Linked DNA regions of Homo sapiens: regions 1, 2 and 3 are each linked to region 4. Evidence: fine-mapped expression QTL. A gene starts in region 4. Each other region holds a variant in brackets. All regions are shown on one strand. Distances are from middle to middle. Region 1 has its middle 30 kb from the start of FBP1. Region 2 holds the start of FBP2 (fructose-bisphosphatase 2). Region 3 overlaps FBP2 (fructose-bisphosphatase 2). Region 4 holds the start of FBP1 (fructose-bisphosphatase 1).

Region 1 (8,028 bases), 30 kb after region 4:
GCTGTCTCAGTCCTGTACTGACAAATGCTGGTAATGGGACTGCATGAGAGCAGTCATACTCTGAGGAATCCACCGGCTTTTAAGTGTGGTTCCATTACAGGATTATGTGGCGCCACGAAGTCCAATACCCAGGAACAGAGGATGGGGAATGTGACCCACAGAGCTCAAACAAAATGACAAAGGAGACCACTTGGGTTCTAGGGCAGCAGATCACATTTGCTTCTTCCAAAGAACCAGAAAGCTTTTTAAAAAGCAAATGGAATAAAGATGTGGATGAAAAGTTTTCTCCCTGGGATAAGTGGATGGGGAGGAAGAAAATGAAAAACAGGTAAATTGCTGAAGAAAAGGCAGTATAGTGAAAAAATCAACATTTAAGAATTAATTATATGCCACTTTTCAAGAAATAAGCATAAGACACCAGAAAAATACGAATTTAGTGAAGGTCGAACAAACACTTTTTTCCCAGTGGCTATGAAAGAGAGAAGCAAGCATCTTTAAACGCTGGCAATTATGCAGATGGCAGAAAGAATAAAGACTGAATTTCATTCCCACATAAGGGAGAGTATAAGGGAGAGTATTAGGGAGACAAAAAGCAACCTGAAGCGTTTACAGTTTTGAGTGAGCGGACAGCCCAGCAAGCATTTAGAACTCATTATCTGAGCTGTGAAAAATGACCCTCAGAAATCACTGAAATTAATCAAGAAGTTAAACATTTATTAAAAACAAGCTTAGAGATTATAGGAGAAAGGTCGAGTCCAGAGACTCCAACAAAGCTGAATCAGCTGATTTCTGGGCTGTGAAATGTGTGGTGCTCAATTTAGGGCACAAGGTTCAGATGCAGGTAAGGCCTCTGGAGCCCCGTCGGGCCGGACCTGAGCCTGCATATGGGGAAATCGCTGTTGTTGTCAGCCGCTCTTGCAAAAAGCTGATGATGTGGCTGTTGAACAACCTGGGACCCTTGACCCTGCCATGACGTTTGTACCAATGTGGGTGTCTGGGTGACATTCAAAATTAAATAAATCAAACTTAAATTACCAAGTTCTAGACTCCAATGTCCAGGGAAATGCCACATTTTGCTGTGGGCGACAGAATTTTGCCCCCTCCACGCTTTTTGTCATAAGGGTCAAATAAACAGGATCATTGAACAGACAGAGTGGGCTCTGATGTGCTTCTCAGCTGGACACTGAACACGGGCAGTACTGTAGTGATGTCCCCAGGAGCGATTGTGCAGGAGTGAGGTGGGGCAGACGGCTTTTCCTGCTGGCTGCTGAGTTGGTGCCATATACATCTCTGCTGCCCGAGGCAGGAGTAACATTGAGCCAATACCATATCCTGTTGAATTTTGCCAAAATGAGAACGCACAGAATCCTCAGATGGTCAAGTGGGAGAAACAAAAAGAAAAATGTTCTGTCCTCCTACCTTGGTCTAATTATTTACTTTCTTTCTTTTTTTTTTTTTTTTTTTTTTTTTTGAGACGGAGTCTCAGTCTGTCGCCCAGGCTGGAGTACAGTGGTGTGATCTCAGCTCACTGCAAGCTCCGCCTCCCGGGTCCACGCCATTCTCCTGCCTCAGCCTCCCGAGTAGCTGGGACTACAGGCAACCGCCACCACGCCTGGCTAATTTTTGGTATTTTTAGTAGAGACGGCGTTTCACCGTGTCAGCCAGGATGGTCTCGATCTCCTGACCTCGTGATCCGCCCGCCTCGGCCTTCCAAAGTGCTGGGATTACAGGCATGAGCCACCGCGCCCGGCGATGTTTAGAGTTTTTTTAAAATCAGGTTACAAAATGGTGTAAGCCAAATTAAAATGTACAGAGAAACCAAAAGAGGACGGCAACATGCCTCAGTGAAATAGTGACTGCATCTGAGTAGCTGTTTTTTCTGTTTCTTCAGACTTTGCTGCACTTCCCCAATCCTCCATAATAGCAACAGCAGAAGCACAGCCTGTGGGGCTAGCCTTGCTTTAAGCATTAGCTGCTGTTATTCCCAGCGTTGTTACTCGTATCATCAAAAGTTGATAAACTGAAAGCTGAGAAAAAGACCAAAGGTTAGAGGGAAACATTTAGAAATGTGTTAGAGACTTGTTTTTAAAGAAACTTTTAATTTTGAACGAATTTTAGGTCTACACTGCAAAGATAATTTAGAGAGACCCTTCCCCCCGTCCCGGTTTCCCCAGTTGTGAACATCTTACATCACCGTAGTACATGTGTCAAAACTAGGAGATTACGACTGGTACATGACTTAACTAAACCCCAGACTTCGTTTGAAATTTACTTGTTTGGCTGGGCGTAGTGGCTCACACCTATAATCCCAGCACTTTGGGAGGCTGAGGCAGGTGGATCACTTGAGGTCGGGAGTTTGAGACCAGCCTGACCAACATGGAGAAACCCTGTCTCTACTAAAAATACAAAATTATCCCGGCGTGGTGGTGGGTGCCTGTAATCCCAGGTACTCAGGAGGCTGAGGCTTGAGAATCACTTGAACACAGGGGGCAGAGTTTGCAGTGAGCCGAGATGGCACCACTTCACTCCAGCCTAGGGGAAAGAGCTAAACTCTGTCTCAAAAAAAAAGAAAAAAGAAAAAAAAGAAAAGTAATTCACCTGTTTTTCCACTTAGGGACTCTTTCTGTTTTAGGAGGATGAGATTTTTGAATGTTAACTAATGTCCCCCTTTTTTTATATTTTAATTGTGAAACATACGTAGAAGTTCATAAAACAAAATGCACTATTTAAAGGAAAATGAAAAGTTCAAGGAATGGAATGATGCCAGTCTCCTGGTATCCTTTTTCTGACTCGCCACCCAGAGGTAATCATTACCCTGACTTTTATGGCAATAATATCCTTGCTTTTCTTGGTAGTGTTACTGTCCAGCTATAATCTCCTCAGTAAAGTAGTTGTGCCTGTTTTTGAACTTTATGTACATGAACGCATGCTGTATATTCTTTTGTTCAAGGTTATCTGGTTGTTGTGTGGTGTGTGTGTCTATGGCTCATTCATTTTCATTGCTGTGTGGTACTCGACTGAGATGCTCTTTGATATTTTCTCCTGCTCCCTGCCCTTCCCTAATCAAATAGACCTTCTGCCTCCATGTCCCAGGGATGGCAATATAACCACAGAAAATCAAATTAAAATTATTTATTATTATTTCAAAAGCCCACATCCTCACGGATTTAAACGAGATTTATAGCAGGATTTCTCAACCTCCACCCTATTGACGTTAGACCTAATAATTCATTTGTTGTGGGGATGTCCTGTTCAGTGCAGGATGTTTAGCAGCTTCCCTGGGCTCTACCACTAGGTGCCAGTAGCATCCACGGCCCTCCAGTTGTGAGAACCAAAATGTCTCCAGATATTATTGCCAAACATCCCCAGGGAGGCAAAGTCACCCCAGATGAGAGCCACTGTGAGAAGAAGGAAAGGAAAAAATCAGTTGGGGAAAATGCAGACTGCAGAAGCAACCTGCCTGAAAAGTTACAGCAACAGGCAAAAATGAAACAACCTTGGGGAAAAAAAAAAACAAAAAACCTCAGGCTGCACCTGCGCACAGATAAGCAACTTAGTGAGCTCCCAGGAAAAAAGTTTCTTCCCTTTTTTCAGGCATATATACGGTGGAAACTTGCACAGATGGGGAGGGGGCTTACCTAAAACAAACCCACAGTTAATACAAACTAGAAAAGCAGAATTCGTGATGGCCTAGAGACATACCCACGGCTGCGTAACAGAAGGGGAATTGCACAGACAGCTTTACTGATAAGAGAAGTGACTCAAACTGCTAGAGATAAGAGTTTCTGATAAAAGCTTTTGAACTCAGCTGTAACCCCGCAATCCACTCGGAATCCTCTCTCCTCTGCAGAGAGCGTTTTTTCTGTCACTTTTTTTTTCTTTTTCCTTTTTTTTTTTTTTTTTTTTTTGAGATGGAGTCTCTCTCTGTCGCCCAGGCTAGGGTGCAGTGCCGCAGTCTCGGCTCACTGCAAGCTCCGCCCCCCGGGCTCACGCCATTCTCCCGCGTCAGCCTCCCGAGTAGCTGGGACTACAGGCGCCCGCCACCTCGCCCGGCTAATTTTTTTGTTTTTGTTTTTGTATTTTCAGTAGAGACGGGGTTTCACTGTGTTAGCCAGGATGGTCTCGATCTCCTAACTTTGTGATCTGCCC[T/G]CCTCGGCCTCCCAAAGTGCTTTTTTTTTTTTTTTTTTTTTGGAGACAAGAGTCTCGCTCTGTTGCCCAGGCTGGAGTGCAGTGGTGCAATCTCGTCTCTACTCCAATAGAAATGTAATTGGTTTTTGTATATTGATCCTGTATCCTGCAAACTTGTACTTGTTACTAGCTCTAATAGGTTTTTTTGGTTTGTCTTTGTGTGTTCTTTGGATTTTCTATATACAAAACCATGTCATCTGCAGATGCAAAGAATTTTGCTTCTTCCTTACCAATCTGGGTTCCCTTTATTTCTTTTTCTTGACTAATTGTTCTGGTTTTATTTTTTTTTTAACAATTTTCTCTTAAGCTTCTCTTCTGCCAAGCCATGGAATCATGTTAGTAGTCAGTTTGGGATCTTCCCTGCTTTCCTGGAGTTGTGTCTAATTTTTTTTTTTTTTTTTTTTTTTTGAGGCAGAGTCTAGCTCTGTCGCCCAGGCTGGAGTGCAGTGGTGCGATCTCGGCGCACTGCAACCGCCGACTCCCGGGTTCAAGCGATTCCCCTGCCTCAGCCTCTGGAGTAGCTGGGATTACAGGCGCCTGCCACCATGCCCAGCTAATTTTTTGTATTTTTTAGTAGAGATGGGGGGCTGGGCGCGGTGGTTCACGCCTGTAATCCCAGCACTTTGGGAGGCTGAGGCGGGCGGATCAGCTGAAGTCAGGAGTTCGAGATCAGCCTGGGCAACACGGTGAAACCCCATCTCTACTAAAAATACAAAATCAGCCGGGCATGGTGACACATGCCTGTAATCCCAGCTACTCAGGAGGCTGAGGCAGGAAATCGCTTGAACCTGGGAGGCGGAGGATGTGGTGAGCCGAGATCGCGCCATTGCACTGCAGCCTGGGCAACAAGAGTAAATCTCCGTCTCACCAAAAAAAAACAAAGAAAACAAAAAAGGAAAGAAATTAAGAAAACAATCCAATTCAATTAACAATAACATCCAAAAGAATGAGATATTGAATAAATTTAACAAAAGAAATGTGAGTCTTGGCCGGGCATGGTGGCTCACACCTGTACTCCCAGCACTTTAGGTGGCCGAGGCAGGCGGATAACGAGGTCAGGAGATCAAGACCCTCCTGGTTAACACAGTGAAACCCCATCTCTACTGAAAATACAAAAAATTAGCCAATGGCCGGGCATGGTGGCTAACGCCTGTAATCCCAGCACTTTGGGAGGACGAGGCGGGCAGATCACAAGGTCAGGAGGTCGAGACCACGGTGAAACCCCGTCTCTACCAAAAATACAAAAAAAATTAGCCAGGCGCGGTGGCGGACGCCTGTAGTCCCAGCTACTTGGGAGGCTGAGGCAGGAGAATGGCGTGAACCTGGGAGGCAGAGCTTGCAGTGAGCCGAGATCGCGCCACTGCACTCCAGCCTGGGCGACAGAGCGAGACTCCATTTCAAAAGGAAAAATATTAGCCAAGCGTGGTGGCGGGCACCTGTAGTCCCAGCTACTCAGGAGGCTGAGGCTGGAGAATGGCGTGAACCCGGAAGGTGGAGTTTGCAGTGAGCCGAGATCGCACTACTGCACTCCAGCCTGGGCGACAGAGTGAGACTCCGTCTCAAAAAAGAAGAAAAAATCAAAAGTGTGAGTCTTGTTTACTGAAAACTATATAATATTTTTGGAAGAAACTAAAGAAGAATTAAATAGAAAGACATGCCATGTTCATAGATTGGAGGATAACATCATTAAGATGATAATCCTCCTCAAATTAGTCAACATAATCCCTAACAAAAGCCTACCTGCTTTCTATGCAGAAGTTGAAAAGTTGATCTTAAAATTCATATGGAAATGCAAGAGACCCAGAATACACAAAACAGGCCTGAAAAAGAACAAAGTAGAAAGACTCACATTTCCACTCCAAAGCTATAGTAATCAAGATGATGTGGTGCTATTGTAAGGATAGACATAGTGATAAATGGAATAAAATTGAGAGTCCAGAAATAAACCATTACTTTCAGGATTAATTGATTTTCAACAATGGTGATAAGACAATTCAATGAGGAAAGAAGAGTCTTTTAAAGTAAGGATGCTGGGGAAACCACACACATCCATATGCAAAATAAAAAAGTTGAACCCCCCACCTCACACCACATACAAAAAAAAATTCAAAATGTATCAAAGACCTAAATTACATTTAGAGCTAAAACTATAAAACTCTTAGAGAAAAATACAGATGTGAATCTTTGTGACTTTAACTTAGGCAATAGTGTCTTAGCTGTGGCACCAAAAGCACTAGCAATTAAAAATAAACAAATTGAACTTCATCAAAATTTTAAAATTTTGGCCAGGTATGGTGGCTCACGCCTGTAATCCTAGCACTTTGGGAAGCCAAGGCGGGTGGATCACCTGAGGTCAGGAGTTCAAGACCAGCCTGGTCAACATGGTGAAACCCTGTCTCTACTAAAAATACAAAAATTAGCCAGGTGTGGTGGCACACGCCTGTAATCCCAGCTACTTGGGAGGCTGAGGCAGGAAAATTGCTTGAACTTGGGAGGCAGAGGTTGCAGTGAGCCAAGATCGTGCCACTGCACTCCAGCCTGGGCAACAGAGCAAGACTCTGTCTCAAAAAAAAAAAAATTAAACATTTCGTGTGGCAAAGAACACTAATAAAAAGTGAAAAAAATACACAGAATGGGAGAAAATATTTGTAAATCATATATCTGATAAATAACTTGTTTCTAGAATATATGAAGAACTCCACTAAACAATAAAAGGGCAATAAAAATGAGCAAAGAATTTGAGTAGATATTTCTGCAAGGAGAATATACAATGGCCAGTAAGCACAAGGAAAGATATTCAACATCATGAGCCATTAGGGGAATGAAAATCAGAACTACAATGAGATACTACTTCCTACCTAGTAGGATAACCATAATTTTAAAAGACAGACAATAATAAGTGTTAGCAAGGATGTGGAGAAAATTGGAAACCTCATACACTGCTGGTGGATATATAAAATGGTACAGCTGCTTTGGAAAACAGTCTGGCAGTTCCTCAAAAAGTTAAACAGAGTGACCATATGGCCTAGTAATTCCACTCCTAGGTATATACCCCAGAGAACTGAAAACATGTGTCCACTCAAAAACTTATACAAAAATGTTCATTGAAGCATTATTCTAAATAGCCAAGGAGTGGAAACAACACAAATGTCCATGAATGGCTGAACAAATGGAATACTATTCATCAATAAAAAGAAATGTTACAATATGGAGAAAGCTTGACAACACTATGTTAGGCTAACAGCCATGTATTGTATGATACCATTTATATAAAATATCAAAAATAGACAAATCCATAGAGACAGAAAGTAGATTAATAGTTGCCAAGGGCTGAGGGCAGAAGGAATGAAATTACAGCTAATGGGTATGGAATTTCTCCTTGGGGTGATAAAATGTTTAAGAATGCAGCCATAAAAAAGAACGAGGTCATGTCTTGCGGGAACATGGATAGAGCTGGAGGCCATTATCCTTTGCAAATTAACACAGGAACAGAAAACCAAATACTGCATGTTCTCACTTAGAAGTAGGAGCTAAATAATGAGAACTTATGGACACAAAGATGGAAACAACAGACACTGAAGTCTACTTGAGGGTGGAGGGTGGGAGGAGAGGGAGGAGCAGAAAAGAGAACTATTGGTTACTGGGCTTAATACCTGGGTGATGAAATAATCTGTGTGACCAACCCCCATAATACGAGTTAACCTACGTAACAAACCTGCACTTGTATCTCTGAACTTAAAATAAAAGTTGAGTTTTGTTTTGTTTTGTCTTGTCTTGTTTTGTTTTGAGGCAGAGTCTAACTTTGTCACCCAGGCTGGAGTGCAATGGCACGATCTCGGC
Region 2 (8,028 bases), 47 kb before region 4:
TTAGAGCATTCATATGCAAAGGTCTCCCCACTTCCACCCTCGCCCCTTCAGGGGGTTCTCAACACACCAGCAGGAGGGGTCCTCCTAAAGTGCCCCCAGTCTTACCCAGAGGCAAAATCCAAGTCCCCGCAAGTGGGTGTCAGGCACCACCGTGGAATCTCTGCGCCCGGGTTGGCATGGCTGCCCGTCTCTCTCATCCTCACAGGGTCAGCCCCAGCCTCTGAAACCTCCAAGGCACACACCTGCCTTGTGACTGACTGCCCAGTGGCCTTGCTGCCCCACCTGGGACACTCTTCCTCAAGAGCCATGTGACGGCCACCCCAGTCAAGCTTTGGCTCAAGGATCATCTCTCAGTAGTGCCTTCTCTGGCCGTCTGTTTGGAGCAGCATTCCCTGGTCCCCAACATCTTACTCGATGCATTTTCTCCTCTGCCCTGACCACCATCTAGGTCCTGTTTATTGTCTGTGAGCTTCCACAATGGCAGGATTTTTTTTTCCATTCTGAGGGAAGCCGTATCCTTCATGTGTCCACCCTGCACCACTACAGCAAGGCTCAGCCACCCCGCCACCCTCTCACGTTCCAACAGCCGCAGATGTCCCTGGGCCAGCACCCAGCAAGCGGCTCTGGTCCTTCTCGCCTTCACTAATGGTGTTCCCACCACAGCAGTGCTCTCTGCCCGGCTTTCTTCCTGCTATTCCTCCTTTTCCTCTCTGGGACGCCTCCCTGGTCCTCTCAAGTGGGCCCCACACACCAGAAACACCCCATCATCCCTCCTCAGTGTTCACCACACTCACGGACTGGCTTCCTGCTGCATGACCTGCTTGCAGAGGGCAGGATCCATCCTTCTGTCTGTTTCTGCAGTGCCCAGACACACAGCCCATGCTCCATGTCTGCTCACTGAGTTATGAGGAAAGGATGGCAAGAAAGGAATTTCCTTTGCCTACTGATGTGAATGCTATTTATTTGTTGAAGGAAATCTCAGGTGGTTCTAACAGGTAGCCAGGGTTGAGAACCACTGATCTACCTTAAGCTGGGGGCAAACTCATTTCCCACCCTCTTCCCTGAACAGCACCCCCACCTCACCCCCCAACACCAACCCCCACCCACAGCACATCATTTGGTGTCTGAGGAACCATGACGTGAGCAGTCAGCTGTCTTGGAAAACACTCCTAGCAGCCTCACCCCAAAGACTGTGCCTCCTGGTCAAGACAAAAGCAAGCAAGCAACAGCAGCAACAAAACTAGGCTGACTGCATCTGAGTTTCAGGGGACCACAAACACAGGCCTTGGTTCGATATGGAATCTGAATGCGCTTGCCACTGGAGGATGAACAGCAGGCCCAGGCCTGCGGTGGGCAGAGCTGAGAAACAGCCTCTGTCCTGCGCTTTGCAAATGCCCCCTCATCCGCCTAACCCCACCCCTCAGCCGACCCCCTGCACCCTCTCTCCAGGCACTGGGCAGCACCCCTCCTCCTAGAAAGAATGGAAACTCACCAGGAGATGTGAGTTCCCGGCAATAGCTTCACCTGAGATGATGGGGGAAAGGGGCTCTCTAGCCCGTAGGACAGTATCTTGCAGTGTTCTGACTGACACTAAAGCTAACTAACAGTCTCTAAAGGAATGATCCCCCACGGCCATGAGAAAGCCAAGGAGAGGCTCCAGGCGGGCACTCCAGCCTCTCTTGTTCCCACCATAAGAAGAGGAAAGAGAAGGGGAAAAGGAGACTCTCATAACTTTTAAATTGCATTCACGGAGCCCTTGCTAGAAAGATCTCCCCAAAAGGAGCCAGGGGCTTGCGGTCCCCTGCCTGGGTGGTGGTGTGTCCGGAATTGGTAGGTTCTTGGTCTCACTGACTTCAAGAATGAAGCCGCGGACCCTCGCGGTGAGTGTTACAGCTCTTAAGGTGGCGCATCTGGAGTTGTTCGTTCCTCCCAGTGGGCTCGTGGTCTCACTGGGCTCAGAAGTGAAGCTGCAGATCTTCGCGGTGAGTGTTACAGATCATAAAAGCAGCGTGGACCCAAAGAGTGAGCAGCAGCAAGAGCGAAAGAACAAAGCCTCCACAGTGTGGAAAGAGACCCAAACGGGTTGCCGATGCTGGTTTAGGCAGCCTGCTTTTATTCTCTTATCTGGCCCACCCACATCCTGCTGATTGGTAGAGCCGAGTGGCCTGTTTTGTCAGGGCGCTGATTGGTGCGTTTACAATCCCTGAGCTACATACAAAGGTTCTCCACGTCCCCATCAGATTAGTTAGATACAGAGTTTCCACACACAGGTTCTCCAAGGCCCCACCAGAGCAGCTAGATACAGAGTGTCGATTGGTGCACTCACAAACCTTGAGCTAAACACAGGGTGCTGATTGGTGTATTTACAATCCCTGAGCTAGATATAAAGACTCTCCACGTCCCCACCAGACTCAGGAGCCCAGCTGGCTTCACCTAGTGGATCCCGCACCGGGGCTGCAGGTGGAGCTGCCTGCCAGTCCTGCGCCGTGCGCGCGCATTCCTCAGCCCTTGGGTGGTCGATGGGACTGAGCGCTGTGGAGCGGGGGGTGGCGCTCGTCGGGGAGGCTCGGGCCGCACAGGAGCCCATGGAGTGGATGGGAGGCTCAGGCATGGCGGGCTGCAGGTCCCGAGCCCTGCCCCGCGGGAAGGCACCTAAGGCCCAGCGAGAAATCGAGCGCAGCGCCAGTGGGCCAGCACTGCTGGGGGACTCAGTACACCCTCCGCAGCCACTGGCCCGGGTGCTAAGTCCCCCATTGCCGGGGGCCAGCAGGGCTGGCTGGCTGCTCGGAGTGCGGGCCCGCCAAGCCCACGCCCACCCGGAACTCCAGCTGGCCCGCAAGCGCCGCACGCAGCCCCAGTTCCCGCTCGCACCTCTCCCTCCACACCTCCCTGAAAGCTGAGGGAGTGGGCTCCAGCCTTGGCCAGCCCAGAAAGTGGCTCCCACAGTGCAGTGGGGGGCTGAAAGGCTCCTCAAATGCCGCCAGTGGTCATTGACGGCTCAGGCACAGGCAAATCTGGTCTGGGCTTGGAACCGCGGTAGTGACAGGCACTGTGCGTGTCTTACGGGGCCGGCACAGTTGAAATCGTCATCACATGCGCTCGCTAACTCTGCAACAACCCTAAGAGTTAGGGATGCTACTATACTCTCCATTTCACAAAGGGAATCTAAGGTCCTAGCAAGAGTAAATCACGCCCATTATCACACGGTAGGAAATGCCAAATTAATAAGCACCTCAATTATCCAGTTCCTAGGGCCACTTTGTCTCCTTGCTCAACCGCCATAAAGTCAGAGTTTTGCAGCAGATAAGCAAGACCCCTACCATGGCAGCCACTGCCTAGCCAAGAGCCCTGCACAGAGGGGGAGCCCAATTTATGTGGATGAATCACCCTGAGATGGACTCAGGCAACCGCATTGAGGATAGCAGGGTCCGCACAGGGAGAGGCAAAGTCCCTGTCTACCGTCACTCAGCAGGGCTGTCACCCACAGGAGCAGAACAGGGCACCGCCTGCCCTCACATTCTGGAAGGCGATTAAATGCAGAGCGTGGCTGTTATTGCCAAATGAGGTAAAAACAGAGCTGAAGCATCCACCCACAGGAAAAAAGCAAGGATAATGCACCGTTAACCTGGGTCCTGCTACTGGGTCACCACCCCTAAATAAATACAGTCTGTGGTGATCAAATGATAATTACATCTTGTAATCTAATGCTATCACTTTTTGTGTTAAAAGCACTTAATTGCTCAGAGTAAATATTTTAAATGATTGGACTTTGTTAGCTCCTCATTTTGAGTCTCTTTCATCCCCAAAATATGTGTTCCTTCAGCTCCTGAGAGGACCTCCCCTGGAATTACTACAAGGGAAGCCCAAAGAAAGCTGGGGTTTTGTTTGTTTGTTTGTATGTTTTGAGATGGAATCTCGTCCTGTCACCCAGGCTGGAGTGCAGTGGTACGATCTCGACTCACCGCAACCTCCATCTCCCAGGTTCAAGCGATTCTCCTGCCTCAGCCTCCCGAGTAGCCGGGACTACAGGCGCCCGCCACCACACCCAACTAATTTTTGTATTTTTAGTAGAGACAGGGTTTCAACATGTTGGCCAGGATGGTCTTGATCTCTTGACCTCATGATCCACCCACCTTGGCCTCCCAAAGTGCCAGGATTACAGACAGGAGCCACCGTGCCTGGCCACCGGATTCTTTTTATTACAGACTTAAACTGGACACTGGGCTGTGACCATCAGCAGTGTAATGTGAACCTGGCCTCATCT[A/G]TGCTCGGATAAAGCACCAAAGAGAACCCTGTGGAAGAAACCTCTGCGCTCCCCTCCCAGGACTAGCACCTCCCGGCTTCCTGCACACCAAGTGGAGGTGAAGATAAAGAAAGAGTCACAGAGAAGAAATAAAACACGTAGCCAGCAAAACACTCCTTTAGATGATGAGAGAGCAGATGCAGGAAGGGGCTCTACCAAGCTTCCTATGTCGTACATAATTTCCAGCTCCTAACATATTTGCAAAGCTTATTACAATAAAACACTCATGTCTGCAAGAGGCATAAAGAGATATTTCACGTCACCCCTCTACTTCTTTGTTCCAGTGAGACTCTCTCTGTGCAAGTACAAGTCATGATAACACAATACATATTTTAATGCAACAAGCCACTGCACTTGGTATCATTATAATAACTGGAAAAATTATATGTGTATTTCTTCATAGCATGTTTTCGTTCCTTTCTCAAAACAAGTCAAAGGCCCCTTTATCAAAGCACACATGATAGGAACTTGAAATGCAGCTTCCATCTAGGGCACACAGGGCCAATAAGCTTTGGACCCAGTTTCTTGCCAAAGCACCTGCAGCTCCCACACCCCTGCCTGGGCCTGGGGTGCTCTGTGCCCCATGCCTGCTCCCCAGGACTCACAGGTGGGCCAGACCGGCCTTGCGCACAGCCGAGGAGATGGCTTTGATGGCCGTCAGCATTGAGTTCAGCAGCTGGGTGAGCTCCCCAGTCCCTTTGGCCTGACGCCCCTTTTCCATAACGTAGCGGGTCAGGGTGAGCATGTCGGTTTCGAAGGGGCTTCTGTCCGTCATTTTGGCTGGAATGCTTCAAATCCTTTTCTCCCGGCAGGAAACCTTGCTTACTTCTGAGGGCTGCAGCTCCGCAGTGTGGAAGCCGATAAGAAATCTGTGCTGGCCCTGCCAGGATCTCTAAGGAAAAGGGCCCAAAACACATGACTCAAACAACTGCTGGGGCCCTCAAGGAACTCCCTCTGGCCTCGGGGACTGTGGCAGCTGCCAGGGAGCCGCAGCAGTCTGTAAATAGGACGGGCTGCCCAGAAACATGGAGCTGCTTTCTCCTGCTGAGCACCCCCTTTCAAGATACCAAGAAGCCACCATTTAGGCACAGGTGGGAGGTGAGAAATCCAGTTGATTAAAAAATGATGCATAAAACCCTCTTATTCCAGGCTCCAAAGGATTCTTCACATATAGTGACTGCAGGGCCTGGCTCTCCCGAGGGCGGAGGTGGCAGATTCGCAGGTTCCTTATCTGGGACGTAGGTCACATAGTAACATAATGGCAACCCCAGAATTCCTTTAGCCAGGGTTTGGAATAAGTTAGGAAAGAATGCTTTTTATTTCCAGTAGGCATGTATGACCAGTGGATATCCACAGTAGAGATCCAGATCCGGAAGAAAACTATTATATTCCTAGCACAGTTCCTGGCACCAGTGTTATTTTGTCAATATCTCTGGATGTCCACTTTTGTAACAAAAATTGCTTGTTAAAAAGGAAACACTAAAGAAGTGGATAAAGACAAACCTCCTCACCACCAGCCCATTCTCCCATCCCACTCTCCAGAAATCACTGCTGCTAGGGCTGGTGGCGGTCTGTGCAGCCAGTAGGCACTGGTGGGGTGCATATGGTGGTGGAAGCACTTTCTCTAGGGCCAGCCAGACCTGGCTGTGAGTCCCAAGCTAGCTATCTGTTGGTTGCATGATTTGAGAAAGTTATTAAACCCCTTGGAACCTCAGTTGTCTCACTCTTAAATGAGCATAACCGTGAAGCATCCATCTTATAGAGTGGCTGCAATGAGATGTACCTAGTATAGTAGGTGCTCAGTACTTTGTTACCTATTATTGCCCTTCCAGTTTTTTTTTTTTTTTTTTTTTTTTTTTTTGAGATGGAGTCTCACTCTGTCGCCCAGGCTGGAGTGCAGTGGCGTGATCTCGGCTCACTGCAAGCTCCGCCTTCCAGGTTCACGCTATTCTCCTGCCTCAGCCTCCCGAGTAGCTGGGACTACAGGCGCCTGCCACGACGCTTGGCTAATTTTTTGTATTTTTAGTAGAGACGGGGTTTCACCGTGTTAGCCAGGATGGTCTCGATTTCCTGACCTCGTGATCCGCCCGCCTCGGCCTCCCAAAGTGCTGGGATTACAGGCGTGAGCCATCACGCCCAGCCGCCCTTCCAGTCTTTCAATGTGCTCACAACTATTGTGCAATCATACATAATCTCATTTCACAAAACAGTACAACATGCACATTTCTCTGAAGGTCTTTTCCCCTGACAGTTATGTCGATTAGAATGTGTTCAGCTGCAAGAAATAGAACAACTAGAGCAATTTACACGTGGGGGTTTATTTCCTCATAGACCAGGAGTGCACTAGGAGGTGGTGGCTGGTGTTCATTCAGCTGTTCTTGGTTCCACTGGGACCCCTCTCTGTCTCGTCTCTGTCATCCTTGGTCGGCTGGATTGTGCCCCTTGCTTGGCATCCTGGGGGCACAAAATGTCACTGCAGTTCTGAACATCTGGCCCACGTTGAAGATGCAAAGAGGGGAGCAAGGGCAGCTCCAACCACATCAGTTCCTTTTTATTAAGAAAGAACAGTTTCCCTGGAACCCATCCTCCCACCCCCGTAGACGTCCCTGTGCACAGCGTCTGCCAGATCAGGGTCGTGTGGTGATGCCTGCAGTGGGAGCTGGGCGCTGGCATTGGATCAACCAAACTGGTTGAGGAGGGCAACCAAATGGTTGAGATGGGCATTGGTGCTCACAATTTATGTGGAAACTTTCAGATAAAACTAACATCTACCAGTAGATCTTAATATGCAGGTTTAAGATCCCAAATATATATATATGTTATTTATATATGTTTTTAGTTCCAGAAAGCAAATATTATGGGAAGATGTCCAAGTCAGCACACAGAGGCTTGGATCATTCCAGCTTGCGGACATTCAGATAATTTAGGTAAGTTGGCTCCTCAAATAGTAATGCAACAAACATCCTTATATTGGGGCAAGTGCTTCAGTAAGATACAACCCCAGAAGAGGAACTGCTATGTGACAATGTTCTAATTCTTTTCGCGGGGGTGTGGGGGGGTCTATCTTCACTTACCAAGAAATATGCTACCTCTTAATAGAACAAATACAGGATCCCATACCCTTTTTGTGATTTTCATTCAATCTATTTCAACTTTCAACACTGAGGTGAATGGATAGATGGAGACAGATGACACCTCTATCTCAGTATGTGGCACACATTAATCCACCCAATTATTTGATCCAGTAGTGCTATTTTTACAGATGAGGAAACTAGGGCTTCCTAGGGATAACACAGCTACTAGCTAGAATCTCAGCCCAGAGCTACCTGAGGTTAGCGTTCTTTCTCTTATATGATACTTTCTCCCATTCTAGGATGCTCCTCCTCCCTAGATGACTGAGCACCATACACGACAATGCACATATGCCTGTTAACACAATTAGAACATAGAATAAGACATGAGCTTAGAATTGAGTTCTAACAAGAGAGATCGCTATGTATAATAAAACAAGAACATCTGCCTGGGTCAGACCAGAGTATTGCTAAATCTATACCCAAAGGAAAGAAGCCTGGGCCGGGAATCAAAGCCCTCCGGGACTCAGATGCCTCAATTTAAAAATGAGATCCAGCTGAGCACAGTGGCTCACACCTGTAATCCCAGCACTTTGGGAGGCCAAGGCAGGGGGATCACTTGAGCCCAGGAGTTCAAGACCAGCCTGGCCAACA
Region 3 (8,028 bases), 57 kb before region 4:
TTACTTCTAATTTTTTAAAAATTATAATAAATTATGGGACTAATTTACAATAAAATATGGGAAAACATGGTTCTAAAATTGTGAAATGACTTCATCTATAAAATGCTAACATCTGACAAACCGTTCAGGACTTCTTGCTTACTAAGTTTCCACTAAAATTTAAAGTTAGTAGAAATAAAAATTCTAATGACTATATAATTCTATGAATTGTATTCGTATTGTAAAAATAATTTTATAGGCTGGACGTGGTGGCTCAGGCCTGTAATCCCAGCACTTTGGAAGGCTGAGGCAGGCGGATCACAAGGTCAGGAGATCGAGACCATCCTGGCTAACACGGTGAAACCCAGTCTCTACTAAAAATACAAAAAATTAGCTGGGTGTGGTGGCGGGCACCTGTAGTCCCAGCTACTCAGGAGGCTGAGGCAGGAGAATGGCGTGAACCCGGAAGGCGGAGCTTGCAGTGAGCGGAGCTTGCACCACTGCACTCCAGCCTGGGCAACAGAGAGAGACTCTGTCAAAAAAAAAAAAAAAAAAAGGTTATTTTAAAAGAGAGAATAATTTTATATATTAAAAAAAAAACTTGGCCAGGCACGGTGGCTTATGCCTGTAATCCCAGCATTTTGGGAGGCCAAGGCGGGCAGATAACGAGGTCAGGAGATGGAGACCATCCTGGCTAACATGGTGAAACCCCGTCTCTACTAAAAATACACAAAATTAGCCGGGCGTGGTGCCGGGCGCCTGTAGTCCCAGCTACTCAGGAGGCTGAGGCAGGAGAATGGTGTGAACCCAGTAGGCGGAGCTTGCAGTGAGCCGAGATTATGCCACCGCACTCCAGCCTGGGCGACAGAGTGAGACTCTGTCTCAAAAAAAAAAAAAAAAAAAAAAAGTTGTATGGTAAATTCTTGTCCTAAAAATAATGACTGATATCTAAAGAAACAAAATTCAGGACAAGTCAAAAAGTTTAAGCATGTCATAAATGGTTTGTATAAATTGTATTAAAGTTTGTGGAGAATTTATAAAAGAATTTTGCATGTGATTAAGTTACCTATAATTAAAAGGGGATTCTTTATAATAGCCCCCTATGTTTAAAGCAAGGTTGTCTGTCTTAAGGTATTTATTTGCTCCTAATAACAAGAAATTTTACTTTTATAACCTCTTTCTCTTAAAAACTTCTCAGAATCATATCTCAGAAGTTTGGCTTTGCTGTGTCTTGCTGCTTTCAGCTTTTTCTCCCCTTGAGAAGGCCTGAGAGGATAACTCTCTCATTCAGCTTTTTCCTCAACTCTTGTGATCTTTTTCCTCCAATTTTATTATTATGGCCTGGCACTAAAACATTTTATCTTAAAGGTCTAGAAAAGCAATGTTTTCCTACATTATTACTTGATTCTGTACTTTCCTTGATATGTCTAAATTTGTCAATATGATTAGAAAGCTTCTCATGCAGTTACTGAGAATTATCTATTTCCCTGATACACTCACAGTTTGACTTCCAGGTTATCCAAATAGGCTTCCCCTAAAGAGAAGCAGCTACACTGCAGGTTTTTCTTTCCCTGTCTGGTAATTCACTTAAGAAACAACATTTTACATTTTATCAAAATAATTCCTATGTTGTCTTTATTAGGTTTTAATTGCTTAGAAAAGTTGAGATCTAAAAGGGTTAAAGTTTGTACAACCATATAACGTTCTGTATTGCCTTTTATTTGTTTGTTTGTTTGAGACAGAATCTTGCTCTGTTGCTCAGGCTGCAGTACAGTGGCACAATCTCAGCTCACTGCAATCACCGCCTCCTAGGTTCAAGTGATTCTCATGCCTCAGCCTCTCAAGTGGCTGGTCCAACACGCCCAGCTAATTTTTGTATTTTTAGCAGAGACAGTGTTTAGCCATGTTGGCCAGGCTGGTCTTGAACTCCTGGCCTCAAGTGATCCACCTGCCTCAGCCTCCCAAAGTGATGGGATTACAGGTGTGAGCCACCATGCCCAGCCTGGATTGCCTTTTCAATCTTTCAATTATCACTCTGGTTAAATGAGCAACTATTGTTTAACAATGACCTACAGTTCTGTTTTAATCAATTGTTTTGAGCCTTTTAACATCTTTAACTTTTTCAAAATTGAATCCTAAATTAAGTTTCTGACTTTCTGCTGGGGTTTACCAAAGCTATAAAAATTAATCACCACTAGGTTTTAAAATCATTTTACAGGTTCCAGACAGGTCAAAGTCTCTAGTATCACTACCTCTAGTCCCTAAAAAAGGCCCTTATCAGGTACTATTAACAAATCCTTGTGCAGTTAAGTTACAGGGCTTTGACTCCTGGGTGCACATATTTCATCTAAAGAAGGCATTGGCTCCTGCCAGTATCTGATACCAAACTCAAGCTAACCAAAGCCTTGTCTCTGGATCCAGGCAAAGGTGACAATCAAAGTCACCTGCTTTAATGAGACACAAGGACAGCCTTGTAGTCAAAACCAGTAAGATTAATTTATTAATTTTGCCTCTGTCTAAAGTAATATGATTTATTCTATGCCTTAATACCAAATAATTAAAATGCTTAACTACCTATAAGCCTCCTTTCCTGTCATTCTCAGAACTAGGCTGGGCTTATGATACTTTAAAACATTACTAATTCTTTGTATTTTGTTTTACCTCCAGAATTGAAACTATTCAATCCCCCAGGCCTAAAGACTATAGTGGAAGAAGTGAGCGTCTGACATAGTAAGGGCCAGTCTTATGGGATCAAATTAATTCAGAGCCTCCAAATCCAGGACGGACACAGAGAGGCTTCAACAGCTGAACAAAAGGCTTGTGTTTTGTGCAGCTAAGTGCTACTAGCCAAGCTCACAGTAGCTCGATGTATAGATTTGTAGATAAGTCAATTTTGGAAGCTTGCCTTTTGGCTTTGGGTTTTTGGCTTTTACATTGCTTAAAAGGGGTTTTAAGGTTAATGAATGCCTGGCCACCTCCATTCCCATCTGGCCTGGAACATTTAACTGGCTTCCACTGTTTTGACTCTAAGTCCCTGGGCCATAGGGGTCCCATCGAGGAACATCATGGACCCTGGGAAGGTAACCATACCACCCCAGCATCCACATGGGACAAAATAAAAGCTTGGCCATCAATACTGCCCCCGGAATACCTTGACAAAAAAGGGAGAATATAAACTAAAATAAAATCCTAAGCCTCTCAACAGACTGAATGGACCTGCCTCTTGGCCGAAGGAAATCCCCAGATAAACTGAAAAACAAGTTCAGGCCATGGCAGGAAGCGGGATCAGACAGGCCTCCCTATACCTTCCCCCACTTTTTGGAATTAGGCACAACTGAAAACCCTAAGATTGACAAAATAGGCTGTTTGTCACAATAAAATACCCAATTAGAAACGGGACCTAAGGCCACGCCAGGCAAGGGTTAGTCACTCACTCCTATTTTGAAGAGGAAACCATGTCCTAACTGCCATAGGTTTTTCTTTTTCTCTAGCAGCCAAACAAGCGCTGGCCTTAAGATCAGCTGACTAACTCACCCCCAGGCTCTTGTTCCACCAGCCAAGACTACAGCTTTAATTAGACAAAAGACTAAATTTCAGTAGCTCTCCTGATAAAAGACCACCAACCATGGGCTAGGTCTGGCCAGTTTACAGAAAGCACACACTGTGTGCCTTTATGTCCTAGAAAGATCTTTTGATATACAGGACCTAAATGGAATACATTCCACCCCAAAATAAACATGGGTCATACATGCATATTTATTCAATACACATATGTCAGGACCATCTTCATAAATATTCATAGCTCCTCCTATAATCTGTTAAATATGTGTGTGTGTGCGTGTGTGTGTGTGTGTGTGTGTGTGTGTGTGTGTGTATAGTTTGTTTGTTTTGAGAGGGAGTCTTGCTCTGTTGCCCAGGCTGGAGTGCAGCAGTGCAATCTCAACTCACTATAACTTCCACCTCCAGGTTCAAGCAATTCTCATGTCTCAGCCGAGTAGCTGGGACCACAGTCACATGCCACCACTCTTGGCTAATTTTTTTTTTTTTTTTTTGAGACGGAGTCTCGCTCTGTCACCCAGGCTAGAGTGCAGTGGCGCGATCTTGGCTCACTACAAGCTCTGCCTCCTGGGTTCACGCCATTCTCCTGCCTCAGCCTCCCAAGTAGCTGGGACTACAGGCACCCACCACCACGCCCGGCTAATTTTTTTGTATTTTTAGTAGAGGCAGGGTTTCACCATGTTAGCCAGGATGGTCTCGATCTCCTGACCTCGTGATTCGCCCGCCTCGGCCTCCCAAATTGCTGGGATTACAGGCATGAGCCACCCTTCCCAGCCCCCTTTTTTTTTTTTTTTTTTTTTGAGACACAGTTTCACTCTTGTTGCCCAGGCTGGAGTGCAATGGCGCAATCTCAGCTCACTGCAACCTCTGCCCCC[G/A]GGTTCAAGCAATTCTCCTGTCTCAGCCTCCTGAGTAGCAGGGATTATAGGCGCCCGCCACTATGCCCAGCTAATTTTTGGTATTTTTAGTAGAGATGGAGTTTCACCATGTTGGCCAGGCTGGTCTCAAACTCCTGACCTCAGGTGATCCACCCACCTCAGCCTCCCAAAATGCTGGGATTACAGGCATGAGCCACCATGCCCAGCCTGTTAAATATGTATATTTTGCCAACCTGTTGTCAAGCCCCACAGGAACCCCAAATATAATTGACAGTGGGGACCATGAAGTATAAGTAAAACTAAGTGCTGTACATACTTCCTGAATAATGCCCAAAACATACCCTCAGCCCCACAAGACACAGAAAAGCAAACTGCTACTATGTCTTAATCCCACAATGTCTTTAAATCATATGGCTTTAGATATCCTAACTACAACCCAAGGCAACACTTGTGCATGAATTAAGGCTGAGAATTAGATATCTACCAGATTATTCTCACAATATAACCCAAACTATACAGGCCTTAAATACTCATATTTCTGCCATAGATTCCCTATCTCAAGACTCTGTAAGAGCACGGTTTAATCAACTTCCTAATACATAGAAGACTCTCAAATACAATGTAACTGGCACTCTGCTTATTTTTCTCTTTGGTTGCTATGGATTGTTTGTTTGAGAGAGTCTTGCTCTGTCACCCAGGCTGGAGTGCAGTGGCATGATCTCAGCTCACTGCAACCTGCACTTCCTGGGTTCAAGCAATTCTCTTGCCTCAGCCTCCTGAGTAGCTGGAATTACAGGCGTGCACCATCACCCTGGCTAATTTTTGTATTTTTAGTAGAGACGGGGTTTCACCATGTTTCCCAGACTGGTCTCGACCACCTAGCCTCAAGGCCTCAAGTGATCCGCCCGCCTCAGCCTCCCAAAGTTCTGGGATTACAGGCGTGAGCCACCGCAGCTGGCGAGGTTGCTATGGATTTTATTGCCGTTGTACACTTTATATAGAATGAAGGACAAGTTTTCTGAATTGTGAAGTTTCTAGTCCTGCTGGATGTCACAAACCCACCCAGCTCTCTGTTGCTAGGATTTCAGGGTAGGCAGAATGGCCCAAAAGATATGCCAGTCCCCAGGATCTGTGAATACCCAGCATTACATGGCAACAAAGACTTTTCAGGTGTACTCAGGGGTTCAGATTTCAAATAGGGAGATCACCGTGGACCTTCCAGGTTAGATTAGTTCAATCTAATCCAATGAGCGTTAGCAGAAAACTTTCTGTGGCTGGGGACAGGAGAGATGAGGCAAGAGGGGGAGAGGATGTCAGAGATTCAGAATGCCACCTGGAACCTAATGCCATGTCTGACATTTGTGTTGCACCCAGACTTTCAAAACAAGATCTCAGCTGTCCTTCTGTGTTACCCTCCCAGGAATGCCAGAAAGTAGGCAGAGAAAGAATCGCCAATCCAGTTCTTCTAATGAGGAGCCCCAGGCAGAGAAAAGTTGGTGGTTTGCCTACAGTGGCTTTTCTCGTTAGTGGGAAGACAAAGGGTAGGACTCCAAACACACGGTTTTCAGCCCAGGAACCTTCCAGAGACCACCACAGGAAGGAGGTGTAAAATGTCAGCCTGTCTACTCACCTTTCTATAGATGGCAAAGATGGTTCCGATGGAGGCCAGGCAGTCAATATTGGAAGATCCATCCAGTGGGTCAAAGCAGACCACGTATTTCCCCTAAATCAGAGAGGAAAGCACCAACTGATCAGCACATCTTCCCATTAGCACAATTGCTCTGTGTCAGGGCTGTGCGTGGCAGAGTACACCACATCAAAAAGAGATTGAGAACCACAGCATATCTTTATCAAAAAACACCATGACTTACGGAGGGCAGGGTGCCAGTTTATACACAAATACTCCTCTGGGTTTTGTATCCATCTCACCTGTCTGATGCGAAGACCAGAAGATAAAGTGGGTGTGTCTTGAGAGACCAACGTCCCCCACACCCACCCACTCTGCTGTCACAGGCAGCTCAAGCCACCAAGGGAAGCCCCAGGTCCTTTTTATAGCCCCCTGTGTGCAAGGTCACGAGAGACCCTTAGTGATGGCGACCGGAACCCCCAGGCCAATTAAACACGGGTAATGCAACTTCAAGAGAAATGAGGGTCATTTCTCCCTCCACTTGATTTAGTTTTCCCTGACTTTCCAATGAGTATTGGCCTAGCTTCATTTGAGCTTTGTTTCTGTTTTTTTTCCTTGCTCAGCCAGAGTAGAAAAGTTAGATAATTTGTAAACTTGGAAATTCCCCAACATCTCTATAATAATCCAATTTTTTAAAAAAAAATCCAATTTAGCCCATTCATTCATGCATGCATGCATTCAGCAGATACATGTTGAGCTTCCAGCATATGCTGGGAAGTAAGTGTTCAAGGCCCTGGGGTTTGTTTCCGGGGGGTCAGCGATCCCGGCAGCAAGGCTGGATTTCATGGCACTGACATTCCAGTGGGAGAACAGACAGAGAGCACACAGGTCAGGACACATACAAGCAGGCTGTGGCACGTGCCCTAACGAAAACCCACATAGGCTGGGGGCTGGAGAGCCATGAGGGGGGGTCACATTTGATGACAGACCTGACTAGAATTAAGGAATGAAGAAACACACAGAGACCTAGAAAGCAAAATTGTTTGTTTTCTTGTTTTTGTTTTGTTTTGACAGAGTCTCACTCTGTTGCCCAGGATGGAGTGCAGTGGTGTGGTCAGAGCTCGCTGCAGCCTAGAGATCCTGGGCTCAAGCAATCCTCCCACCTCAGACTCCCAAGTAGCTGGGACTACAGGTGCACACCACCATGCCGAGCTAAATTTTTATCTTTTGTATCTTTATGTTGCCTAGGCTGGTCTCAAACTCCTGAGCTCAAGCAATTCTCCCACCTCAGACTCCCGAGTAGCTGGGACTACAGGTGCACACCACCATGCCGAGCTAAATTTTTATCTTTTGTATCTTTATGTTGCCTAGGCTGGTCTCAAACTCCTGAGCTCAAGCAATCCTCCCACCTCAGCCTCCCAAAGCACCGGGATTGCAGGCGTGAGCCACCGCGCCCATCCTAGAAAGAAGAATTTTCGACAGAGAGATCAGCAGGTTTGGAGTATTCAAGAGCTGCCACGGGCCAGGCATGGTGGCTCACGCCTGTAATCCCAGCACTTTGGGAGCCTGAGGCGGGTGGATCACCTGAGGTCAGAGTTCAAGACCAGCCTGGCCAACATGGCGAAACCCCGTCTCTACTAAAAACACAAAAATTAGCGGGGCATGGTGGCGCATGCCTGTAATCCCAGCTACTCAGGAGGCTGAGGCGGGAGAATTGCTTGAACCCGGGAGGCAGAGGTTACAGTGAGCTGAGATTGCGCCATTGCACTCCAGCCTGTCCAGCCGGGCAGTAGAGCAAGACTCCGTCTCAAAAAAATAAATAAATAAGTAAATAAATAAATAAAGGAACTGACATGAAGACCTATGTGGCTATGTGGCTTAGGCCAATAGGAGAAGACAATGGTAGATCAGACTGGAGAGAGAAACAAGAGTCATATCAACTGAAACTGAAAGTTGGAAGTAATAGTGTGATGTAGCTAAAATTATGTG
Region 4 (8,028 bases):
AATGATCCTGGGTGAGCTCCCTAAACTGGCTCCAGTGAGGTTCCTGCAAATCTGCAATCACCCCGTCCCTCTGGGTACATGCTCTTCTAGGTCCGGTCTTCAGCACTAACAAGATCTTTGCAGGAATGCTGGTTTTTCTTTCTGGATTTCAATGCCTGGAATGAATGTAGGTTGGGGGCCTGGCTTGAGAATCATGCTACCTGCCTGATGACATGTGATACTGAAAATGGCCAAACGCTGAACTTCCCACAAGATCACCTCAGTGTCCAGCATCTAGTCCTGTCAGCTACCCCAACAACCAGGCATGCACACCAGTTCCAAGGGTACAGCACTGTAATACCCAAAGGCTAGTAAAAACCAAAGTGCCCCAAAATAGAGAAAAACTTCAATACCTCATGATGTGTGCAGGGGAGCAGCACACAGCAGTTAAAAGGAGGTAGATGTAGATGTCCCGATATTAATGGATGTTTCTTGAATAATGTTAAATAACAAAGCAAACTACAGAAATGTGTATTGTGATCCCATTTTGTCTGCTATTATAGGCATATGTAAATATGTGTTCATGTGTAAACTTATATGACTGTAAAAGAGTATCCGGAAAAATAAGCAGTAAATTATTTGCAGTGGATACCCCATGGGATATATATGGGGTGGGTTTCACTCTTCCCTTGAATTCTTTTGAATGGTTTAAATTTTTGTCAATGAGTGCAACATAGTATTTCTTTAAAACCTGGTATTCACAACTATCTAGTATAAAAGTACACATATTGGCCAGGCACAGTGGCTCATACCTGTAATCCCAGCATTTTGGGAGGCCAAGGTGGGCAGATCGCTTGAGCCCAGGAATTTGAGACCAGCCTGGGCAACATAACAAAACCCCATCTCTACAAAAACACAAAAATTATCCGGCATGGTGGCACATGCCTGTAGTCCCAGCTACAGGGGAGGCTGAGGTGGGAGCACCAATTCAGCCTGGGAGGTTGAGGCTGCAGTGAGCCATTATCACACCACTGCACTCCAGCCTGGGCAACAGAGTGCGACTCTATCTCAAAATAAATAAATAAATAAAACGCATACCTTACGTAGCCAAAATTAACATGCTTCATCCAGGCCCCACCATCAAAATCTCACTATCCAAGGTCCCACTGTCTAAGGTTACTTAGACAGTGGGACACCTCAAAACACATCTTACATTTCTCAGTCTCTCTAGGGGTGTGAAAGGTACTGACACATTTTTTAAACAATATCAGACATGACAAGCCCTTTTTTTTCTTTTTTTGAGACAGAGTCTTACTCGGTCGCCAGGCTGGAGTAGAGTGGCACGATCTGGGCTCACTGCAACCTCCGCCTCCCGGGTTCAAGCAATTCTCCTGCCTCAGCCTCCCAAGTAGCTGGGATTACAGGCGCCTGCCACCATGCCTGGCTAATTTTTGTGTTTTTAGTAGAGACAGGGTTTCACCATGTTGGCCAGGCTGGTCTCAAACACCTGGACTTTGAGTGATCTACCCGTCTCAGCCTCCCAAAGTGCTGGGATTACAGGTGTGAGCCACCACACCCAGTCGACAAGCCCTCTTTTTAAAATATATCCCTGGTCCTCAAAGGCAGTTAAAGCTGTGAGCCACCTATACTAGCTGTAAATTAAAGCTTAAGATTTCACCTGGGTATGTTTCTAAAATAAGAATCCTTAGGAATGTATTATTAAGAGGGGCCAGAGGCAACAGTAATGGAGTCATCACCTTCCTTAACATGTCTGCTTAATATTCAAAAATAAATGTGATCATACCACTCCTTTACATGAATTACCTCCACCAGTCCATACTGTGGGACCAAAGCCAGACAGCCTGCCAGTAAGAAAAGGAATCTAGATTGCAGGATGCGGGGCGGAGAAGAGTTTTTAAGAATGGAGAAATGCATTCCAAACCCAAGTAGCAGGGTTGTATTTGTTCAGGTCAGCTCTGAGCATCATGCGTCTTTTTTTTTTTTTTTTAAGACAAAGTCACGCTCTTGTCGCGCAGGCTGGAGTGCAATGATGCGATCTCGGCTCACTGCAACCTCTGCCTCCTGGGTTCAAGCAATTCTCCTTCCTCAGCCTCCCGAGTAGCTGGGATTACAGGCGCCTGCCACCACACCCAGCTAATTTTTGGTAGAGACGGGGTTTCACCATGTTGATCAGGTTGGTCTTGAACTCCTGACCTCAGGCAATCCACCTGTTTCGGCCTCCCAAAGTGCTGGGATGACAGGCTAGAGCCTACGCGCCCAGCCCATCATGTGTCATTTTTATAGTGTGCATAAGTGCGGGGAATGTTAGTAAAGTGTATGGACAATCTGAAAACCCAGTTACACTTCAGTTAAAAGTGTGGATCAGTTAGCTAGAAAATACCTGCGCACGGCGGCTCATGCCTGTAATCCCAGCACTTTGGGAGGCCAAGGCATCACCGGAGGTCGGGAGTTCGAGACCAGCCTGACCAACATGGAGAAACCCCGTTTCTACTAAAAAAAATTACAAAATTAGCTGGGCATGGTGGCACATGCCTGTAATCCCAGCTACTCGGGAGACTGAGGCAGGAGAATCGCTTGAACCTGGGAGGCAGAGGTTGCGGTGAGCCAAGATCGCACCATTGCACTCCAGCCTGGGCAACAAGAGCAAAATTCCATCTCAAAAAAAAAAAAAAAAAGAAAAGAAAAAGAAAATACCTGTGCACACCAACACAAACGAAAGGATGTTGTGTGACTTACAAAAAACCTCACAAGAAGGGGTCCTTTGAGTCTCCACTCCACTTGACCCCTTGCTACTCACAATGTGATGAGTAGACAAACAGTATCTGATGGGCAGCACCCACCACAGGAGAACTTCTTAGAAATGCAGAATCTCAGGACCTGTCCCAGAGCTATGGAAGGAGGGCACACATCTTACCAAGATCCCCAAATGATTCCTGTGCCCAGTGACGTTCGAGATGCACTCCATAGCGCATTCAGAACCATTCTACAAACCACTTTTGAGCTTTCCACTAATTGGGCAGAGGCTGCACACACCATCATTGCAAATCGATAGGGGTTTTGAAGCCCTGGGTGTTTCCTGTTTCTGGCACAGCATGGCAACTGTCCCAGCAAGGGGCAGCCCACGGGAGCTCCTTTGCACACAAGCCCTGCTGCTCCTAAAGGCTCTGGACACACAGGAGACCTCCCAGCCTGCTTGCGGGGGGGGCGGGGGGGACACTCGCTCCTAACAGGTCTTGTTTCAGGTCAGAGATAACTGGATTAGAAACCTGACTTGGGTCCCTAATTGCAGAAAGAGTGAAGGAGGACAAAGAAGAAATGGGGAAGGAAGGCACCTGAGCTAGCACTTTCCTGTCTGAGGCTAGGGCGGGTATGACGGGCAGGCCAGGTGCCCACACTTGGCCGGCTGAGAGGGGTACGAGGCAGGCTGCTCAGGGCAGAGAAGAGGAATGCAAGATGGAATCAGGTGTACACCTGTGAGACGGACCCCCAGGTGGGCCCCTCCAAGGTCAAGGGAGGAGATGAGGACTTGAGTGAGGCTGAGCCAGCTTCTGGAGAGAGGGGCTACCAGACAGAGAGCGAGAGAGGCGCTCAGACATCAGACGGACAGACAGAGGCTGACGGCAGGAGGCTCAGAGGGCCCAACGTCAGCCCGCCGGGCAGGCTCCCCAGGCAGACAGACAGGACGGGGCCCACCGCCCAAGGCCCGACTCACAGGTGCGCGATGCCCGCCTTGCGCACCGCCGAAGAGATGGCTTTGACTGCTGTGCAGAGCGAGTTGAGCAGCTGGGTCAACTCGCCCGTGCCGCGGGCCTTCCTGCCCTCCTCCATGACGAAGCGGGTCAGGGTGTTGACGTCCGTGTCGAAGGGCGCCTGGTCAGCCATGCTTGAACCGGGTAGAGCGCGGGGCTGCAGGTGCAAGCGGCAGGTGCGGGGCTGCAGGTGCGGGCGGCAAGAGAGGGCAGTAGGCACTGGCCGCAGGTGCGGAGCTGCAGGTGCGGGCGGCAGGTGCGGGCCGCGGGACCTGGCGGGAGGACTGACAGACCGACTGCCGCCCCGAGTGTCCGCAGCGCTCGTGGTGCAACTGGGCCAGGCCAGGCGCCGGCGGGTGAATCGCGGAAACCTTTAGACGCGGGTCGGCCCCCCGCCCCCGGGAACACTCTTGCGCCCCGCCTACCCCGCGGACCAGACCGCGGCTCCGCCTGCTTGGATCTTCAGACAAGGTCGGGGATCCTCCCTGCGGTCTCCCAACCCCCGCCCCCACGCGCCCTGCCGCCCCCTAGTCTTCCTGGGCTGTCGCCCCCCACACACACCCCTCCGTGCCCTCCACCCGCACTGTGGAGCGGGACTCGGGCCATCGGACTCTGCCAGAGAGAAAGCTATGACTGTTTCCTCCAAAATCATAAAACGGAAGTTCAGAAAGGTTAAGTAACTTGCTCAATGCCACCAGCTAGGCAGCGAAACCCGCAGCCAGTCCACATGGCCTGGCTTTAGCTCTGCAGCTCCTGCCCCGTGTGGCTGCCTGCCCCCGCCCCCTGCCCAAGCCCCGTCCACTCTGCCTGGCCTGTCACCTGGCCCTTCTGTCCCCGCTAGGAGACACAGAGTCCCCGTTTCTCACCCATCTGAGGGCCCACGTCTGAATCCTTAATCCAGGCCTCTTCTCAAGATTCCTAGAATTCGAGAGCTATTGAGTATTTGAATTTCCAAGATGTGAGTCTCGCCCGGAAGTTTCCCGGAAAACGGTCGCTGACACAGAGTCCTCGGCTACCACACAAAGGCCAGAGGGCTCCACCGCCCGCATCCTGACCCCCTGGTAGCCACAATGCTGCAATTGATGTGCTGATTCACGAAACAACACCTATTGAGCACCTGCTGTGCTGAACACTGTCCTACCTTCCAGGGGTGGAGCCTGATCCAAACAGACAAAACTCCTGCCCTTTTCGAGTGTACGTTTTCACAGAGAAACAGTAAAAATAAATATATAAACAATAGATTAGTTTGTTACATAAGCCATAAGTACCATAGAGAGAAACGAAATAGAAAAGGAAGACACGGAATGTGGAGGGGAGAAGAGGGTGAGCAGAGGCCTCAGTAAAAGCTTCTCTGAGAAAGGGATATGTGAGCAAAGAGGTGAAGGATGCAACGCGCCGGTGGAGATGGGAAGGAGAGCGGTTTCCTCACCGGGAGAGCCAGTGCACAGGCCCTGGGGTAGGAGACCATGTTTCAGGTTCAGGGAATGGCCAGGAGACCGGTGGAGCTGAAATAGAGCTAGCAAGGGTCAGAGGTGGAGGAGATAAGGCCAGCGGGAGGATGCAGAGGTGAGGTCTAGAGGGCCAAGTGAGGTTTGACTTTGACTAGGAGGAACCCACTGGAGAGTTTGGAGAAGAAGAGAGGCATGGTCTACCCTGTGTCTTCATACTGCGGCTACTGTGTGAAGATCAGACTGAAGACAGTGCCCTCCAGGTTACTAGGAGATAGTGAGCCAGGTGTTAGCAGTGGAGGTGGTGGATTCTGGACATATTTTGAAGGTAGAGCTGATGGGATTCGTTGACAGATGAGATATGTGAGAGACAGGAGTCTCGGATGATTCTAAGGTTTGAGGCCTGAGAAACTAGAAGAATGCAGTTGTCCTCGACTGCGATGGGGAACACCGAGAGGGGCGTGTGCTGGAGGCAGGACTGACAATTAGGAGCTAAGTGTGGGACCTGCTAAGTTTGAAATGCCTTCTAGACATCCAAGGCAATGTCAAATAGACAGATTTATGTATCTGGAGTTCAGAGGAGAGATCCATGCTGCAGGTATAAATTGGAAAAGCCAACTGGAAAAACCAACCAAAAACCAAGAGATGTGACATCCGGGAAGCCAGATGAAGAAGGTAAGTAAAGGCGGGCTGACCCATGTGCCAAGCGGTGTGGATGGGGCAGGCAGGACAAGCTCTGAAAATTGACTGCTGGATTCACCGTGGAGACCTGGGGTGCAGATTCCTGTGCCCAGGGTTGTCAGATGCGGCGGCGTTGAATGAAGGAAGGTGGTGGTACCACCAGGAAAGACAGCGACTGTCTCCTCAAAGCCCCAGAGGGGACTTAGATGCCTGGCAAAGAGAGTTGATCCTTTAAGGGTCTTATTTAACTCTTTGTTCCTCAGGCAACTTTTCAGGAAAAACCCTGTGTTAAAAAAAATAGTAAGAGAAATACATCCTTAAACATAAAAACTCAAATAGGCCCGGCTCACTGGCTCACACCTGTAATCCCAGCACTTCACTTTGGGAGGCCGAGGCGGGCAGATCACCTGAGGTTGGGAGCTCGAGACCAGCCTGACCAACATGGAGAAACCCCGTCTCTACTAAAAGTACAAAAATTAGCTGGGCATGGTGGTGCATGCCTGTAATTCCAGCTACTCAGGAGGCTGAGGCAGGAGAATCGCTTGAACCTGGGAGGCGGAGATTGCAGTGAGCAGAGATGGCACCATTGCAGTCCAGCCTGGGCATCAAGAACAAAACTCCATCTCAAAAAAAAAAAAAAAAAAGAAAAACAAACAAACTGGAGGCTGAGGCGGGCAGATCTTGAGGTCAGGAGTTCAAGACCAGCCTGGCCAACATGGTGAAACCCATCTCTACTAAAATAAAAAATTAGCCGGGCATGGTGGTGTGCACCTGTAATTCCAGCTACTCAGGAGGCTGAGGCAGGAGAATCGCTTGAACCCGGGAGACAGAAGTTGCAGTGAGTCAAGATCCTGCCGCTGCACTCCAGCCTGGGCAACAGAGCGAGATTCAATCTCAAAAAAAAAAAAAAGAACTGAAATGTGATGACTAGTATTTTTGGCATAGTAACTAGTTACTAGGGGAGAGCTAGAGCTAGTAACTAGGGGAGTGTGCCCCTTTACTTGCCAGACTCTCAGTCCCTCAGGATCTTGGATTGGCTAGGACCGTAAAAGTCATCTAGTCCAGCCAACCCTCATTGGACACCATCCCTGATAAGAGGTGAAGAGCTTGGGATCTGCATTAAGCAAACTTGTTTGAGTCCCAGCTCCAGCCCTCAGCAGCCAGAGATCTCGGACCAGTTACCTAATCTCTGTAAACCCAGTTTGTTCATCCATATAGTGGAATAATGGTTCCATCTGGCAGTGGTGTCATCGGGCTGAAATGAGATGGCATTGGCAGAGTGCTTAGCTCAGAGCTACACACAGGGGACACACTGAATACGTGGAGGAGACCCCTGTCTAGCTCAGTCACTTCTGCTTGTCACCCACGATGATGGGCAGCTCATTGCCTACAAGGCAAGCCATTCCCCTTGGGACTAGGCCACGTCGCATTGTGGTGAAGTGCACAGACTCTGGGGCTGCATGGCTTGGGTCCAAACCCTGGCCTGGCCACTTACTGGCTGTGCAAGCCTGTGCAATTGGCTAAACCTCACCAAGCAACCATTGGCTCATCTGTAAACTGGGGCTAATGATTGTAGCCACCTCATAGGGTTGCTGGGAGAATTATACAGGCAGTGCTGGTAGTGTTTAAGAACAGTGCCCAGCATGTAGTAAGTACACAGTATGTAAGTGTTTGCTTCGTTACATGGGTAGGGCCAACTGTTGTTTTCATGTGAACAGAAGCAAGAAAGTTCCCTGGCCATCAAAAGGGGCTAGAGGGATGTGGGAATTGGCAGCTGAGCCTGTATTTGCCTGGTGTGCAGTGATATCCCCTCCATCATATTGGTCGATTGTGACTCGCTCTTTTCTGGGTCAAGATGCATAAAGCCCATCACCCAGGTATTAGCAAGAGACAGAGGAAGGCGGCCACCTCACATGGGTTCCTGGCCTGTGGGTTGGGCCCCTCCCTCCTCCACCCACCACCCTCGCAGAGTTGCTTCTTGCCACATACTCCAACTTCACATGGGATTGCAGATTCAAGTGATGTGAGCAGTATTACCACATGTGTAACACTCGAAATCCTGCGAAGAATCAGTGCTCATGCATTTCCTCACCCAGCTCCCACGATGGGGTTATGTTGGAGGCGGGCAGTGGAGAAGTAACAGTGTGGAC

What was found. PIP is the estimated chance that this variant, and not a neighbour inherited with it, causes the effect.
Region 1: its variant is fine-mapped to the expression of FBP1 in whole blood (TOPMed, PIP above 0.99).
Region 2: its variant is fine-mapped to the expression of FBP1 in whole blood (INTERVAL, PIP 0.98).
Region 3: its variant is fine-mapped to the expression of FBP1 in whole blood (TOPMed, PIP above 0.99).

Annotation. Positions count from the first base shown.
Region 1 is chr9:94,665,726-94,673,753 of GRCh38, forward strand. No RefSeq gene overlaps it. Among named protein-coding and RNA genes, the nearest start is that of FBP1, 30 kb to the left of the region's middle. RefSeq lists an enhancer at 3,375-3,514 and a silencer at 3,502-3,796. The variant T/G (reference allele first, on the strand shown) is at 4,150.
Region 2 is chr9:94,588,649-94,596,676 of GRCh38, forward strand. FBP2 (fructose-bisphosphatase 2) reads right to left here and starts at 5,176. Exons shown (of 7, transcript NM_003837.4): 1 at 4,909-5,176. The coding sequence starts at 5,078. RefSeq lists an enhancer at 2,643-3,185. The variant A/G (reference allele first, on the strand shown) is at 4,265.
Region 3 is chr9:94,578,535-94,586,562 of GRCh38, forward strand. It overlaps FBP2 (fructose-bisphosphatase 2), which reads right to left. Exons shown (of 7, transcript NM_003837.4): 3 at 6,043-6,135. Among named protein-coding and RNA genes, the nearest start is that of FBP2, 11 kb to the right of the region's middle. The variant G/A (reference allele first, on the strand shown) is at 4,413.
Region 4 is chr9:94,635,429-94,643,456 of GRCh38, forward strand. FBP1 (fructose-bisphosphatase 1) reads right to left here and starts at 4,090. Exons shown (of 7, transcript NM_000507.4): 1 at 3,713-4,090. The coding sequence starts at 3,882. RefSeq lists a silencer at 4,164-4,223.